2 separate regions of the Homo sapiens genome follow, and region 2 is linked to region 1. A link means that fine-mapping ties the variant in region 1 to the expression of a gene that starts in the linked region. Tissue or cell type: tibial nerve. Region 1 holds a variant in brackets; the other region holds the start of a gene. All regions are shown on one strand. Distances are from middle to middle.

Region 1 (8,339 bases):
AGACGATACACACTCCCAGAGAGGCCACAGCCAGTGTGTGTAGGTTTGCCTGGCCCCACATCACCCACATGGCAGCATCAGCGTCCCCCACACTTCGCAGGGCAATAACTCCTCAACCTCAGAACAAATGCTACTTTAATAGCGGCTGCTCCTCAGACCCTGTAATTAGGACCCTGTAAAAGGCAAGTTGTCCCATTTCAGGTGCAAATTGCCTACTGTGACTCCAACTCCAACATATTGGAGTCTCCAAGCATTCCAAACAGGATGCTGGGGAAGCCCTCCCTGCCTCCCCGCTCCACCTTCCAGGTTTATGGTCAGGAGGCTCAAGGCTATCAGAAGCTGGTTTTATTTTTTTACTTTTAGGGTTTTTTTATTCGATATAGGATCTTGCTCTGTCATCCAGGCTGGAGTGCAGTGGTGCAATCACAGCTCACTGCAGCCTCAACCTCCCAGGCTCAATCAATCCTCCCACTTCAGCCTTCCAAGTACTGGAGACTACATGCGTGCACCAAAACCCCTGGCTGATTTTTTATTTTTTGTAGAAATGGGGTCTTGCCATGTTGCCTAGGCTGTTCTTGAACCCCTGGGTCTCAAGCAATCCACTAACTTCCACCTCCAAAAGTTCTAGGATTACAGGCATGAGCCGCCGCACCCAATGGGAGCTGGTTTTAATAGCTCTGATCACAATGCACAGGAGATGTACCTCATCTGGGGACAACGCTAAGGCACCATTACATGGGGTCAGAATTAACCCCAGGAACTGTGGACAAGCTAGTATAGTGTATCTAATGAGAACTGCATTTACAGCATGGGCAAGCTGACCTCGACGAGATAATATGAACACATGTAGCTGCCCTCTGTGTGGTCCCATCCAGCCCACGGTTTCTAGTGCTGCCTTCCCATTCTGATGCCTCTCAGCACTGCCCATCAGCTCTGGCACAAATAAGTAAATGACATTCCACAAAGTTAACAGCCTTTCTGGATATCACTAAGCAAGACACAGGGCTGTGAAGAAACAAAGCATAGAAGCCCTCCTAGATATGAGGCTCAGGGACAACCTTCTACCCTCAGGTTAAAACCCATCCTAGGCAACTGGTGGCAGGGCTGGTGTAACACAGAAAAGCAGGACTGAGAGAGCTGGCAGAGCGGGCAGACACACACAAGCTGACACCCACTGACCTCCACAAGTTTCATGACAGGCACTGGGTTGAAGAAATGGAGGCCAGCGAATCGGTCTTGTCTGGTGGTGGCATTAGCTATGCTTGTAATCTGCAAGGAGGAAGTGTTGCTGGCAAAGATTGTATGTCTGTGAAGAGAAAATATAGTGGGAGTATCAGAGTGAATCTCTTCTTTCAAAACAGCATGACTCTTGGATGCAATGCACAAGGTGACTGCTTACTGCCACATCTGTTGTCCTGACCCATTGGGGGAATGAGGGAGAAGACACATCTTCATATAAGAGGCTGAAATCAAGTGACTTCAGCTTTTTAAAAATTTTTAAATTTGAAATAAAATTGGAATTTCCTGTTCCGAAGAGGTATTTAACCTTCACCAATCCTTCCTTGATTTTCCAGAACAAAATTTCCCCTACCTACTTGTATTAGTTAACTTCCAAGGTATGTGAGATAACAAGAGGTGGCTAATTGATCAAGCTACTTAACCAACCCCAGTCACAAACGAAACTCAGTGATCAAAAAATAATGAAAGAAAGACACCTAAAAGCAACAAAATTCTAAATGAACACATAAATCCTCAATCAGAAACATATGATAATAAACGTGAATTAAGATATTTTCCCTGAAGTGAAAAGCTTTATTTTTCAATTGAATGGGAATTAAAATGAAAACAAGAACACCAACATGGTTCAAAAAAATTTTAAGGTTACATGGGTAGATATGGGGAAAAGAGGATATAGGCATATGCATATATAAGACATTAACTTATTCATTAAAAAAAATCCATACTGACTTAAACCAAATTTAGTTCTTTAAGGCCACAGTAAAGTGGCGTGCCAAAAGCATGAGAGGAAAAGCTTTAAACAGGTTGACTTCCAGGCTTTCCTGCAGCGCCACCTTGCGGATAAAAACATACAAACAGGCCTGGTGCTGATTCCAACCAAGATGGACTGTAACAGGGCAGGAAAGGAAAGGATCCCTTACTGACCAGGCTTGGGGGTTTCTGCTTACCTAACAGGCAATACTATAATCTGCTCAAATCAGGGGCGGGTGGGAGGAGAGGAGGAAGAGAAGGGAGAAGAAACCAGTTATTTGGAAAGGAGGGAAAAGAGGTAAAAGGCGAGACCAGTGTGGGTAGGCAGCGGAGAGCCTTCTCTTTCCAGGTATGAGCACATCCACCTTCTCCAACAGCTTCCAAGGTAGGCCATTTAAATGCCAGGGTTTCCTTTTTAAAAAAAAAATGACATTGTTTTAAGGTCTTAAAATTTCAGTTTTCAAAGTTTCTTGCTTTTGGTCATTGGGGAAAATAATATAAACTATTCCCCATTACAGAAGGTAATGAAAAAAAGATCCTCTTCCAATAACAATGTGTGTGGCCAACACAAGCACTGTTCAACCACACAACCTGCACCACAAGCACCTGGAACCACAAAAACAGAGCAGGGACAGCCTGGGCCCAAGGCTGTGCCAGCTGTGGCTCCACACTCCCGTTAAGAAAAGAAAGTGTTATTTTAAAGATTAGTATTACAATCGTAATACCCCTTTTTGTAGAATGTTTGAAGGGCCATTCACCTGCAAAAAGGGGAAACTTGGGCACATTTGGTAAAATAAAGTGACATCAGAGCCCAGTTCCAGGTATCACCAGTCCAGGGCACTCTGGCACATTTTATCAGAAGGAGGAAATGATCTCTCCCCAGCAGACCTCTGCTTCTGCCTCTCCCAACAGGGTCAGGCTGACTTTGTTCCTAAAAGTCTCACACTGTCTTCAGAGAATACTAAACACATAGGACAGTCTTTTCATCCACAAACAAAATGTACTCTGGGCTGGGCACGGTGGCTCACACTTGTAATACCAGCACTTTAGGAGGCCGAGGCAGGTGGATCACTTGAAGTCAGGAGTTCGAGACGAGCCTGGCCAACATGCCCCGTCTCTACTAAAAATACAAAAATTAGCTGGGCATGGTAGCGCATGCCTGTAATCCCAGCCACTAGGGAGGCTGAGGCAGGAGAATTGCTTGAACCTGGGGGGCAGAGGTTTCAGTGAGCTTAAGATCATGCCACTGCACTCCAGCCTGGGCGACAGAGCGAGACTCCGTCTCAAAAAAAAAAAAAAAGTACTCTTACATGTTCCTGGAAACACTTGTCTTGAACCATCTTTTGTTTTTTTCATTCGGACACTCAGGTACCAAAAAAACTACTTTTCTCTTAAATGTTCTAAAAGAAAATCGACAACACAAGCACAGTGATTATTAGCAATGGCCCCAGACCCTAGTATAAAGAAGACAAGAGGGTTGGTGGGGATGGCAAAGGATTCAAGAGTCTGTACTTTGTCTAAAGGGGAAAGTCAGGACTTCGATCTGGCTGCCTGTGCGTCTGGTCATACTTTTCATTTGTGTGTCTTAGGCTGCTGCTAGAGAAGTCATGTTCTCTCCAGGATGCAACTGTTTCATCAGGGCTTCCAACCCGAAATGTATCACTTGACTATATTTTCTTCTCCCATTATAGGATCGAACTGTAAAATTTGTCAGTAAAGTACCTCTCAATACGGCTGCTTAAAAATTGTAGCAAGCATTCAATAATGGTGGTGATCTAAAACAAAAACAAACAGTGCCAAGAAAGGTGGAGAAGGTCAGCAGCAAAGTCACATCTTTGGTATGACTATGGGTCATGCCTTCTTTTCACACCTCATATCTGTTTTGCATCAATTCAGGTTAAAGAGCCTAGTGTAGTGCCTGATACACAGCAGGCACTCAGGAAATGTGAGCTAAATGAAATGAGTTTCCTAAACAACTCTGTACAATAGGTACCAGTGCTGCTGCTCCTATTTTACAAATGGGGGAAGCTAGTCTTAGAGAGTTAGAGCCAGAAAGGTCTAGGAAATTATTTACCCCAATCACCTCAACTTGCATTACAGATGACGAAACTGAGGACCTTTCCAAGGCTGGAGGTGGTGAGGGGGTCAGCACCAGGCCCAGGCCTCCTGACTTTCTCCA[G/A]TGATCCTTCTTCTGTACCAGACATGGACAATGGAGGGCAGTCAGGCCTTTCACTGTCACCAAGAGCGACCAATCTTTTCAATAAAGATCAAACTGCTTGACAAAACTCCCTTTTTTGGGGTGGCTGTTTATTATCCCAGAGGGCTCCCTGCTGGCCTGGGAGCCAGTCCCGGTACCACAAGTATATTCTGTTTTTGTCAGATGTCTCTGTAGCCTCTAGATGCCAGTGTGAAATGCACGAGGACACTGATTGGCAGTGATGGACAGATGACAGAAAGGCAAGTCTCTTCTCTTTGTCAGGGGCAGGGCCTCTCTGGCCACAAGGCCACCCATCTCTGAAGGTTAACATTCCGACAAGCTGGTATGCAAGTGACTCTCTTTAGCCACTGCCCACCGGAAGTGCCCTGAGAATTGCTTTTGTCATATAATCTTATTCTGCCATTCAATTCCAACCAAGAAGCATGAAAATATAGTCAAACAAGTCACTAGAAGAGCACTGATCAGTGGGTCAGGTGTCACACACTCGAAGGCTCTGGATCCCAAGGTACATTCTGCCAGGAAGAATTCCACCAGGAAGCCAGCCAGCTAAGAAGTCAATGCTCCTTTAACACTCCCAAGAGTACTTCGATTGAACCCAGATGAAGCTCAAAACAGGAAAGTCCTCTCTGTCTATAGGCATTCCCTTCAATTACACCATTCTGTTTGCTCCATCCAAAAAAGGAGGAAACACAGAACTGCTCTGAGGGTCCTTGGCAGACAGTTAAGGACACGTAGGGTACTCCTATGCCCGAGAGTGGAGCACAGAAGTACCCTACATGTCCTTAACTGTCTGCTGTCAGATGTCTCTGCAGCCTCTAGATGCCAGTGTGAAATGAACCAAGGAACGTCAGAGCAGCTTCTGGCATAGGAGTATCCATGACCTACACACTTCAAGAAACATAGGCCTGTCCCTGGATGGACCCCTCCATGTTACCATGGGTAATTCTACACGCATCTGGGACAAGGATCAGATCACAGCAGCCCAAGCTTCAGAAGCAAACTGGGAGTGGGAGGATGGAGAACAACGGAAACCATATTGGCTTTTCTTGAAATAGCTGTGGGGTAGGAGAGAGGGAGGTGGATAAACTTGGTCAAAGGATCCCTTCCTGGGAGAAGGCAATAAACAAGGAGGAAAGTTCAAGGCCCAGGGAGGGACCCCTCAGAATCTGTCAAGAATGTCCAGGGGTCATGAACAGATATTTTTCAAAAAAAGACACACTAGTGGTCAATAAACATATGAGAAAATGCTCAGCATCACTAATCAACAGAGAAATGGAAATTAAAACCACAATGAGTTTAGCACCTGATACCAGTCAGAATGGCTTTTATTAAAAAGTCAAAACCAACAGATGTTGGTGAGAATCTGGAGAAAGGGAACCCCTGCATGCTGGTGGTGGCAATGTAAATTAGTACAACCTTTAAGGAAAACAGTATGGAGATTTCTCAAAAAACTAAAAACAGAACTACCATGCGATCCAGCAGCCCCACTATTGGGTATATATTCAAAGGAAAAAAACTCATTCTATCAAAAAGATACCTGCACTCATATGTTTATTGCAGCACTATTCACAATAGCAAAGACACGAAATCAACCTAAGTGTCCATCAATGGCTGATTAAAGAAAATGTGGCATATATACACCATGGAATACTACTCAGCTATAAAAAAGAATAAAATCATGTCTTTTGAAGCAACATGAACAGGAGTGAAGGCCATTATCTTAAGTGAAACAACTCAGTCAAATACCATATGTTCTCACATATAAGTGATAGCTAAATAACAGGTACCCATGGATGTACAGAGGGAAATAACAGACACTGGAGAGTTCAAAAGGTGGGAGGGTGGCGAGGGTTGAAAAATTACCTATTGGGTACAGTGTTCACTATGTGGGTGATGGGTATACTAAAAGCCCAGACTTCACCACTACACAATATAGGCATGGAACAAAACTGCACTTGTACTCACAAATCTATAAAAACAAAAAATAAAAATGAAAAACAAAAATAAGGTTAAAAAAAAAAAAAAAGAAGATTGTCCAGAGGTTACATACTCAGCAGCAAACTTGTCCAGCCTTTTGAAGAGCTCGTTTTTCACCTTCAGATTCTCCACGATGGCTTCCACCACCAAGTCTGTGCTGTGGACAACGGAGGCTGCATCCGTGCTGGTCGCTATGGTGCTCAGGGTCTTCTCCACAAATTCATCGCCGGCCTAATGCAGTGGGAGGAAGAAGAGAACATTCACCGGGCTCACTGGAAATTATCTTTCAAGTTCTTAGCTCTGCTCCAGTTAGCAAACTGGGTGTTCAGAGCACCTGTATTGGCCTACCCTATCTGTTCTCAAAGTGTCCACGAAGCCTGTAATTTATCCTTCCATAGCTCCCTGCCATCCATTAGTCTTGAGGTGGTGCTGACTATTCCTCTCTAATAAAAGCAGAGACTAGCTCCTATTAGAGCAAGGGCAAGAGCCAGGGTAAGAAAGCCGACTTAGCATTTATCAAATAATTATTGTCTGTCATATGCCTGAAACTGTTGTTTCCGAAACAAGCTAGACACAGCCTCTGCTGCCAAAGAGCCTGTAGTTTTCATCGTTTCCTCATTTTTCTCCTGTGACTCCAGGTTTCCACAGACCTCAATAAGGACAGAATTGGAGATGGTGCCTCTATAAGCCGCCATTTTATTTCATAGTGTAATTTGTCCACAGGGCATCAAAATAGTCATAATCAGCAAAGGCATCCAAAATCATCATGGAATAAGCAGCTAGATCTCAGCTGTTATACAGAAATATTCTACTAGCCACATTAAAAAAAGGGAAAAGACATTCGCAGGTGAAATTAATGTTATTTAACCCAATATATCTAAGATGCCATCACTTTAACAGGTACTCAATATTTAAAAATATTGAGATGTTTTATATATTTTTCCCCTATTATAGCTTTAAAATCTAGTGTCTATTTTACACTCAGAGCACATTTCTATCTAGACTAGCCACATTTCAAGCACTCAGTAGCCACTTGTGAGTAGCTATTATATTGGTGGTCAGTATAGAGCTAGATAAGCATAGTATGTCAACTAGGCAGAGAAACTGACACCTCCCTCCTCAGTGGTGTCCCTGGCAGAGGAGAGAAACCTCAGGAGTATAGACTTCTGAGGAGTAGCTAGCCAGAGCTGAGCAACTTGAGCATAGGGGCCATCCTTTTATCTTTAGGGTGTGGCTCAGAAACTCAGCCCAAGGAGACAATTAGCTGAAAGTCTGTAAACAAGCAGAAAATGCAGGCTATCTGGGTCAAACTCACTCTGTCCTAGACTCCAACCCTCAGCCCAGGGCTCTTATAATCTCATCTGTCTGGACCCTCCTCATAACATCCCCTGCATGGGGTCCCACTACAATTAAGAATATAAGGGACAGATGGTCCGGGCGCAGTGGCTCACACCTGTAATCCCAGCACTTCGGGAGGCCGAGGCAGGCGGATCACGAGGTTAGGAGATCGAGACCATCCGGGATAACATGGTGAAACCCCGTCTCCACTAAAAATACAAAAATTTGCTGGGCGTGGTAGCGGGCGCCTGCAGTCCCAGCTACTCAAAAGGCTGAGGCAGGAGAATGGCGTGAACCCGGGAGGTGGAGCTTGCAGTGAGCCGACATCGCGCAACTGCACTCCAGCCTTGGCTACAGAGCAAGACTCCTCCGTCTCAACAAAAAAGAATATAAGGGACAGGTGAAGAATATCTTAATGTAAAAAGTAAAGTAGAAGTTCCTCTTCAAAGAGACTCTCCTCCCCATCTAATTAAGAATAAATAGTAACTTTTCTTAGAAGCAAAATTTATTCTAAGACCTGTTAACATTCTTCAATATCTGCTAGCTGTAATAAAGAAATCAATGTACTTTATGTTCTTAGCTCCCACAATTTAGCCTAAATATTTGCCCTGGCATGCTTATACTGGTCCAAGTGGGCATTAGGTCATAGCCTGTTCCTCTTCCTTATTTAGAGGTGTTTTTACCTTTCTCAGCATTCCACAAGTTACTTCCTCCTTCCTTTGTTCTCATCTGCCTTTGCCTCTTTCAAAAAGTTCTAAGTTGCTAGCCAATCAAGACAAATACATTTGAATGTGAAGTCCCGTCCCAGCCAATAGAA
Region 2 (8,339 bases), 26 kb after region 1:
AGAAGAGAATAAAGCTAAAAAAATATGAAACAACTCTGATCATTCTCTTTTTCAGCATCAGAAAATGCAGATTTGGGGGCAAGAAGAAGAGATGAGAGAACAAATCCAGTGGCTGGGGAGAAGCTTTCAGGTCTACCTGAATCCTTATCAAGCATGGTAGAGTCACACAAAATCCCTGCAACGTAGCAGGCTCTCCCTGCCCTTACTTTGTTTTTAATAGCCAAAGAAGCTCTCTCTAGAAAAAATATGCACTTTCTGCTTTTTAAAAAGGAGGAAAAAAAAAAAGCAAGCTTTGGGAGAGAAGAACCTATCCCCAACCCCCTTTAAGATGCAAACTTTCTCACTTCCTCAAAGAAGAGTAGTGCACTAAAAAGAAGGTTGCACCCGGAGAGCATGTAAAGTGTCTCAAGGGGGACATCTGAAGTGCCCCGTTCCCAGGGAGCCCACTGGCTCCTCACAAGTAATCTAATGAAAGCTATGCATTCTCTCTGGGCTCCTCATATGAAAAAACCCAATGTATGAAGCAAAGCCTAGAAAGGATTCAATACTGGAGAAATGCACACAGCTACCAGCTTTCTTCCTTTCTTGTTTTCCTCTTTATAAAGCAAAAAAACAACCTGTCCCCCACTCAAGGCTCATTTAATCCTATAAGCTTCTTTATTGGCCTAAGTATCCAGTGAAGATAAATTAGCAATCAAAACCAAGTCAGAAGTGTGTAATAAGCAAACACATGAAACAAGTTAACTTCAAATATTAACCTGCAGTCTAAGGGATTTTTTGTTTTTTTAATTTAAAACAAACAAAAGAAATGACAGGCAAAGTAGATACTCTCGGAAAATACACATGTACAAATGGCCTGTGCTCTGATCAAATGTAATTAAGCACTGAACTTGTCTTAAATTGCTTAATTGCTTGAGAAATGCATCAGGCTCCCACAAAATCTATTTAAATATTTTTTCATCCTTCTGAGCACAAACTGACGTGTTTAAAATGACAAAACTATTAAAATTATAAGCAGAACTGCACCTTGACTAACATTAAAACCACGTCAGAAAGTTCAAGAAAATTAAGCTAATGAAAATCAGTAACATAACCTCAATACTAGTTTGTGATTGTACTTTTATGGCTTTACTAAAGTTTAACAATAAAATGGGGGGTAACTAAAAAGTGTTCTCCCTCCTTTCAGAGGTCCCTGAAAAAACATACCCGCTGCAGCATCAGCGGGTATATGCATTCAAGATTAAGCAAGATGAAACAGGGAATCATGACCAATATTCTCCATCTAAACCTTACAGGCCTACCTCAGCAGCTGTGATCAGGATGGGAGTGGATATGAGGGGAAAAGGGCAAAAGGACAGGACAACTGCAATGAAGATGATGATTATTCTTTTTATTTATCTTTTTGAGACGGAGTCTCGCTCTGTTGCCCAGGCTACAGTGCAGTGGTGCGATCTCGGCTCACTGCAACCTCCACCTCTCAGGTTCAAGAGACTATTCTGCCACAGCCTTCCAAGTAGGTGGGACCACAGGCACATGCCACCATGCTGGCTAATTTTTTTGTATTTTTAGTAGAGACAGGGTTTCACCATATTGGCCAGGCTGGTCTTGAACTCCTGACCTCAGATGATCTGCCCCCCTCAGCCTCCCAAAGTGCTGGGATTACAGGCTTGAGCCACCATGCCGGGCCGAAGATAATTATTATAAAGGCAGCTAACTTTCTGTGAACTCTTATTACATGCCAGACACTGTGTAAGTGCTTGACATATGCTTGATATATGTAACTGCTTGACATATGCATGAATTCATTGAATTTATTCAATTCTCTCCCTACGAGGCCAGTACTAGCATTAGTCTACTTTAGAGATGAGAAAACCGAGACACAGAGGTAAAGTCCCATGTTAATACTGCATGAGGCAGAGCTAGCATGCAGACCATCCAACTTCTTATATTGAACTGTAGCCCATCTGTACTCAAAACACATCAACTAATTCGTCTCTGGCACTCAATAAGCAAAACAGATTTACCCTATGCCAAAAGCTGTTGGTCAAGGAGCATAAAGAATGAAGCAATACTGCCTAGAACTGCATGCTACAGGGTAGGGTGCAAAAGCAGATAAGCTAAACCACTGCAAAGCATTGCTCACAAATGTTTTAGAGGATTGGAGCTGTCAACTAAAGTAACTGAGGTTTTTCCAAACTGTGTTACATAAGGATGGAACTGTTTCTTATGGTCGTCCACTTTATAGATTTCTGGTCTTTATAACCTTTCAGAATGACAGTTCCATTATGTGTCCAGCCTATGGCATAAATAGCTTTTTTTTCCCTTAAGTTTCAAAAGGCACTCCCTGGTCCACCTATTTAAGAGTTTGATTGACAAGCACAAGCCTGTGTTCTCCATTAATGTCAATCATTTCTCCTTACTCCTTTGTCAGGTGAAAGCTCCAACACCATACCTGTAATTTTAGGTATTGCCCCTCTGCCTTTTAATGCAACACAACATCCATTTTTGGCCAATGATGGATGCAGCATTCAAAGAACTAAGCACTCTGATTTTCTACAAAAGTTGAAGTGACGCTTTCTACTTAGTTTCTAATCTTTTTCCACTGCTGTCTTCAAGGACACCAGCCACAAGTTTCTGGATCCATTTCCCATAATGTTCCTGGAGGCTGCTTAAGGCCCTAATATTTTGTTACTAAGATGTTGTTAAAATGTTTCTAAAAAACACATTGTTCTATTCCTGCTCACAACAAATCTCACTCTCACAGCCTTGGGAGATTTGGGTGGAGCCTGGGAATACAAACGTACTCAAACTAAACTTTCTCTTGAGTATAACCTGTGGAACTTTTAGGTTAAAGGGAGTTACTCCTCCCAGTCCACATACAACATAGATTATGGGGATACTATAACCTAGCAGCCAGGGGATCCACACAATAAAAAGGGCAATGTATGTCCAAAATTATGGTCTCAGAGGAAATGGGAGACTGTAAGAAGTCATATAAATAAAACATTACAGGGATATAGCTTTTAGAAGAAAATGCAATCAAATAAAAACGTTGTAAAAAACTTGCCAAGGAGAAGAAAATTGAGATATATAATACCTAATAGTAAAAGGTTTTTTTGTTTTTGTTTTTAAAAAGCAAGCATGAAAGCGTGGACTTGGTTGGAAACAAGACATTGAAAAAGTAAACTCTCTCATGACTGTAGCCACAGTAGTACTGTCCCCAAGAAAAATTAGATGACTATAACCGCCTTCCCCAACAAACCAAGTTGCAAAGGACTGAAATGCTAAGAATATAATCAGCTAGGATACGAAAACCATGGTTCTCCAATGTGAGCTGAAATGGAATAATTTTTAAAAAAAAAAAGTACAAGCATTACAGTAGCCAGGTAATCAATCACTCGCACAACTGAGCCTGAACCACAGCTCAGCAGAACAATGGAAAAGCCCTGAAGATGTACAATGGATAAAAGACTTGTTCCGGCTGGGTGCAGTGGCTAACGCCTGTAATCCCAGCACTTCGGGAGGCCAGGCGGGCGGATCACCTTTGGTCAGGAGTTCGAGATCAGCCTGACCCACAAGGTGAAACCCTGTCTCTACTAAAAATATAAAATTAGCCGGGCGGGGCGCCTGTAATCCCAGCTACTCGGGAGGCTGAGGCAGGAGAATCGCTTGAACCCGGGAGGCGGAGGTTGCAGTGAACCGAGATCGCGCCATTGCACTCCACTCCAGCCTGGGTCAAAGAGACTCCGACTCAAAAAAAAAAAAAAAAAAAAAAAGAGAGAGACTTATTCCGCTGCAGCGCCAAAATCGCAAGCTCAGAACTCTGCACAGACGGCACTATTTCAAAGGTCAAAACCAGGACCTCAGCAATCTTCCATTAGGTGACTTTACAAAGTGCTACAAAAGTCATGACTACTACTATTCTTTACAACCTAGCAAGCGAAGGAAAGACCGGGGAGAGCCGGGAGGCCGTTTAGGAGAGAAAACTACTTTGACAAAGACTGCACAATTACAGAATAAAAATCAAAAATAACTGATAGAATTAAAACTGATCGCAGTTCATGTCTTTGGCAGCAAACTCCCGTTTGAGCCGAGCAGGAACAAACGCGTTATGCCTGAACCTTGTGCACATACAATTCTTTCTTCTCTTGCACGGCCCGCTTCCAAAATGCATTCACCGCCACTCTCCATGGAACCTTCAGCGGGCCCTGGGGGCAGCCAGAATTTTCCAAACGAGGAAGCTGAGGATCGGCCCAGAACCCTGAATTTTGAGGGGAGTGAGACTTGGGCCCTCACAGGCCCAGACGCGAGATATTTCAACTACACCCGGGAGGCGCGGGGTGAAAACTCCCTGGTGTCGGGCGGGTGCAGGCCCCTCGCGGCCGGTCGCGCCAGAGCTTCCACCTCAGGGTGGGCGGCCAAGCGCGTGGGCACGCTGCAGGGAGGGCCGCTCACCTGGGCAATGCCGGCGCCCATCAGCCCGCCGCCGATGACCGTCACGTGCTTGACGATTATCTTCTTGGCCGAGGCCGAGGCGGTGGACGAGGAGGACACGGAACGCATGAACTGCCTGGTGACGAAGGCCATGGTGTGGCAGCGGCGGCGACAGCGAGGAGACCCGGGCAGGGAAGACGCGCGAGGCGGGCAGCCGCGGAAAGCCAGACTCTGGGGGCGGGGACCTACGCGGCCCTGCAGCCCGCGCGCCCCCGGCGTCCCCGTGACGCCACAAGGCGGGGGCGGGGCCTCGAGTCCCGCTCTGCCCATTGGCCCTGGCTGTAACGTCCCAGCGTTGAGCGGGTATACACGCGCGGGCTCGCAGCTGTCAGCAGCCGGAGCCCGAGTGAGCGCGGGCTTGAGACCTGCTGAGCAGCGGGACCTGGCGGCTGGCGTTCTGGTGTGGGGCCGAGAACAGACCCTTCTTCTGAAAAGCCACTGGCCCCTTGTTCTATGAAGTGAGTGGTGTTGACTCTGTAAAATGCTATCCTTTGATGACATGTGCATATCTAGGCTCTGAAGAAATATGTGCTGCTTGGCTGTGTTGGTAATGGACCCAAAATGTGCACCGTTGGTTGATGTCACCAAATAATCAACTCGGGATTATTTTAATCCCGTGGACAGTGATTGTTTCCCCTAAAAGGGAAATAAATGTAGACTGCGAACACCCAAAACAAATGTCTAGTGACCATGAGTTACAATGCAAAAATCAGGCTCAGGGAAGGTAAAGAGAGAGTTGACCTTTAGTTACCCATCTTGACGTTGGACGTCTATCAGTGCAGTGAACATGTGGACGGTTTAAGGTCATAGAGCAACCTTTCTGGAATAACGAATACTATTAGAAAGCATAGGAAAGAAATGTCTTGTCAAATAATGGAAGACTGGATAGCAGCTTGGCCAATCTTCTCACTCAGGTGAATACTTTCTAATTACTGTAACTTAGTGATATAGGATTCTTATTAATTTATTTGCTTTATGTTTAAATATTGTTAACAAAAAAACTTCAAACAAGTTTAGCAGAGTTTATCTGAGCAAAGAAAGCATGAATCATGTAGTATCCTGAGCCAGTAAAGGTTCAGAGAGCTCCAGCCCCTAACAGTGGGCAAGCCGCGTTTATAGACAATATTTTTTGCAGCCTGTAATGGGCTAAAAGCTCCGCTGCGGTGATTGGCCAAGACTTGGCCACTTGTTAGAAGAACGTACTCTCAAATTACATTGCAGTTTATTTACATATTAGGTTTGATTATGCTTTGCTAGGTAGGGAGGCAACTTTAGGCCAGATTTAATTTAATAACAGTTTCCTCCTTTGGGTCAGCCTCTCAGTTTTACGAGATTGACCAGAACCTTGTTTTGTCTCAGTATGGAAGTCACAATGTCAAATTAGTTGAGTGATTATACTTTCTTCATGTTGTTATTCTAACTGTAATAACACCATTTGGTGTACAAAGGATGGCTGCATAGAGACATTGAAGACTCTCGAGGGGACAACAACACATCAGGGAGACTATTATGGCCACGAGAAGGAGTATAGCAATAAACTGAGGTACACACCTTAACAGGAGTCTCCACAAACTGAACTGATCAAAATTAAACAATTCAAAGTTCAGGCAATAAAGATAGTTCAAAGTATTTGAGTCCAATTGGTCATGGTCTAATTTAGGGCATTATGGCGGTTAAGGACTGCTAGAAATGCTTATTTCTTGGTGCCGTAAAGAAATAGCACTTGAACATAAAATTAATTTCTTTAGCAAGGCCATTTTTACTTTCTGCGGAAAGAGTACACTCGCCAGCAGTTTTGCCACAAGAGTACACCGAACAAAGGAGGCAGGGTCATTTATAACCTGACCCGTCCACCTTACTGTTGTGACTGGTTTCCATTGGCTAGAACGGGACTTCACATTCTGTATTTGTCTTGATTGGCTAGCAACTTAGAAATTCTTAAAAGAGGCAAAGGCAGAGGAGAACAAAGGAAGGAGGAAGTAACTTGTGGAATGCTGAGAAGGGAAAAACACCTCTAAATAAGGAAGAGGAACAGGCTATGACCTAATGCCCACTTGGACCAGTATAAGCATGCCAGGGCAAATATTTAGGCTAAATTGTGGGAGCTAAGAACATAAAGTACATTGATTTCTTTATTACAGCTAGCAGATATTTAAGAATGTTAACAGGTCTTTGAATAAATTTTGCTTCTAAGAGAGGTTACTATTTATTCCTAATCAGATGAGGAGGAAAGTCTTTGAAAAGGAACCTCTACTTTACTTTTTACAAGGACCATAGTTCACTGAATGACCTGATTCAGCCTTATGGCCTGATTTAAAGAGGTATCCATTTTTGTAATTAGCCTGGTAACACAAGTTATAATAACCTGGAGAGCCACTAAAGAAGCATAAAGATTAGAAAAGTTTGGAATAGCCTAGCTTGCCTTTCACTACTCAGGATGCCTACAAACCAACCATTAGCTGCTCCCATAAATGTATCATGTGTTCCTTTCCCCTGAGAAGTTTCCTTAATATATTCAGTGGCAGTGTTTAGAGAAACAGCAGTATCTGCCACCTTTTAAATTAAGTTTTCTATAGTAGTAAAATTAGAGGAAAAATAAGTGCAACATTCAGTTTTATTCAGCACCATGCAAGAGCCCCCAGCATGAGCAAAGAGGAGATCCAAAGTTGTGTAATGTTCCATGAAGTGTGTTTGTTGAACACAAATGTTTTGATCCACTGAGAATATTTGAGTAGCTTCTACCATGTGAACCCCTAGGAGGTCTGACTGGCTACAAATTCAAGATTTTCCCCAATTTATAGATTAGTTTCAAATTCCATACAACAGGCACCCTGCTAATGCCAAGAGTGAGTTCCAGCACCTCCATTGGAACCTTTCCTCAGTAGAAACTAACTTGTCTTCATTTATTTTTAGGTTGGTGCTTACTTTGGTTATTGACTGCTTTAACCTCTGATTATGAAAGGTATTATGGGAACTTTCAGGGAAGGCTATTGGGATGTAGGAGCGAGCCAGGCCAAATAGCAAGATCTGAACCAGTGAGGAAACAACAGAGAAGGCAGGTCAGATTATCCACCAACCCAATGTAGGCCCTTGGGGGCTTGAAAAGAGGGCCACTTAGTGGTGTTTGAGCCGAGGTCAGTTAAATTTGTCCACCCACAAGTTGGCATAGCTCCTGAATAAAATCCAGTGGTGAACTTACTCTTCTGTGGTCCCTATATAGCATGTTGTAAGGGTGCAAACCACTGGATCTAGTAAAAAGACTTTGCTAGATTTAATCCAGTGAAATCACACAAGCAATTATTTGTACCCACATAGGTAGTCCCCAACGTCTTAAGTATGCAATGCCCGGAAGCACAAGATACCTTTTGCAGGCATCATTCTGATAGTTTTTTTTTTTTACTTTTATGTACAATTGACAAATAATAATTGTACATATTTATGGGGTACAGTGTGATGTCTCAATGCATGTATATGTTGAACAATGATCAAATCAGGATAATTATTAAATAATATGTCACTTTAAGCATTTATCATTTCTTTTTGGGGATAACATTCAAAATCATCTCTTCTAGCTATCTTGAAATATACAATACATTATTATTAGCTGTAGTCATTCTACTGTGTAATAGAATAGCAGCTTTTATTCTTCCTGTCTAACTGTAACTTTGCACCCATTGACCAATCCCCTCTATCCAGATTTTTTATATTTGGTAACAGTTTGGTTATTAACTGGAAAGATCAAGATACTATTTTCAGCAAGTATAGGAAGGCAGGTAGCAGTGATGTGTAGCATATCAAAGATAACCTTCCTCTCTTTCCTTGGGGTTGCAGGGTGACTCTCATTA

Evidence for each region. PIP is the estimated chance that this variant, and not a neighbour inherited with it, causes the effect.
Region 2: it holds the start of HADH, and the variant in region 1 is fine-mapped to the expression of HADH in tibial nerve (GTEx, PIP above 0.99).

The regions. Positions count from the first base shown.
Region 1 is chr4:108,012,507-108,020,845 of GRCh38, reverse strand. HADH (hydroxyacyl-CoA dehydrogenase) reads right to left here. Exons shown (of 8, transcript NM_005327.7): 3 at 6,258-6,415; 4 at 1,180-1,306. Among named protein-coding and RNA genes, the nearest start is that of HADH, 27 kb to the right of the region's middle. The variant G/A (reference allele first, on the strand shown) is at 4,169.
Region 2 is chr4:107,986,181-107,994,519 of GRCh38, reverse strand. It overlaps HADH (hydroxyacyl-CoA dehydrogenase), which reads right to left and starts at 4,631. Exons shown (of 8, transcript NM_005327.7): 1 at 4,456-4,631. The coding sequence starts at 4,587. RefSeq lists a silencer at 4,635-4,864.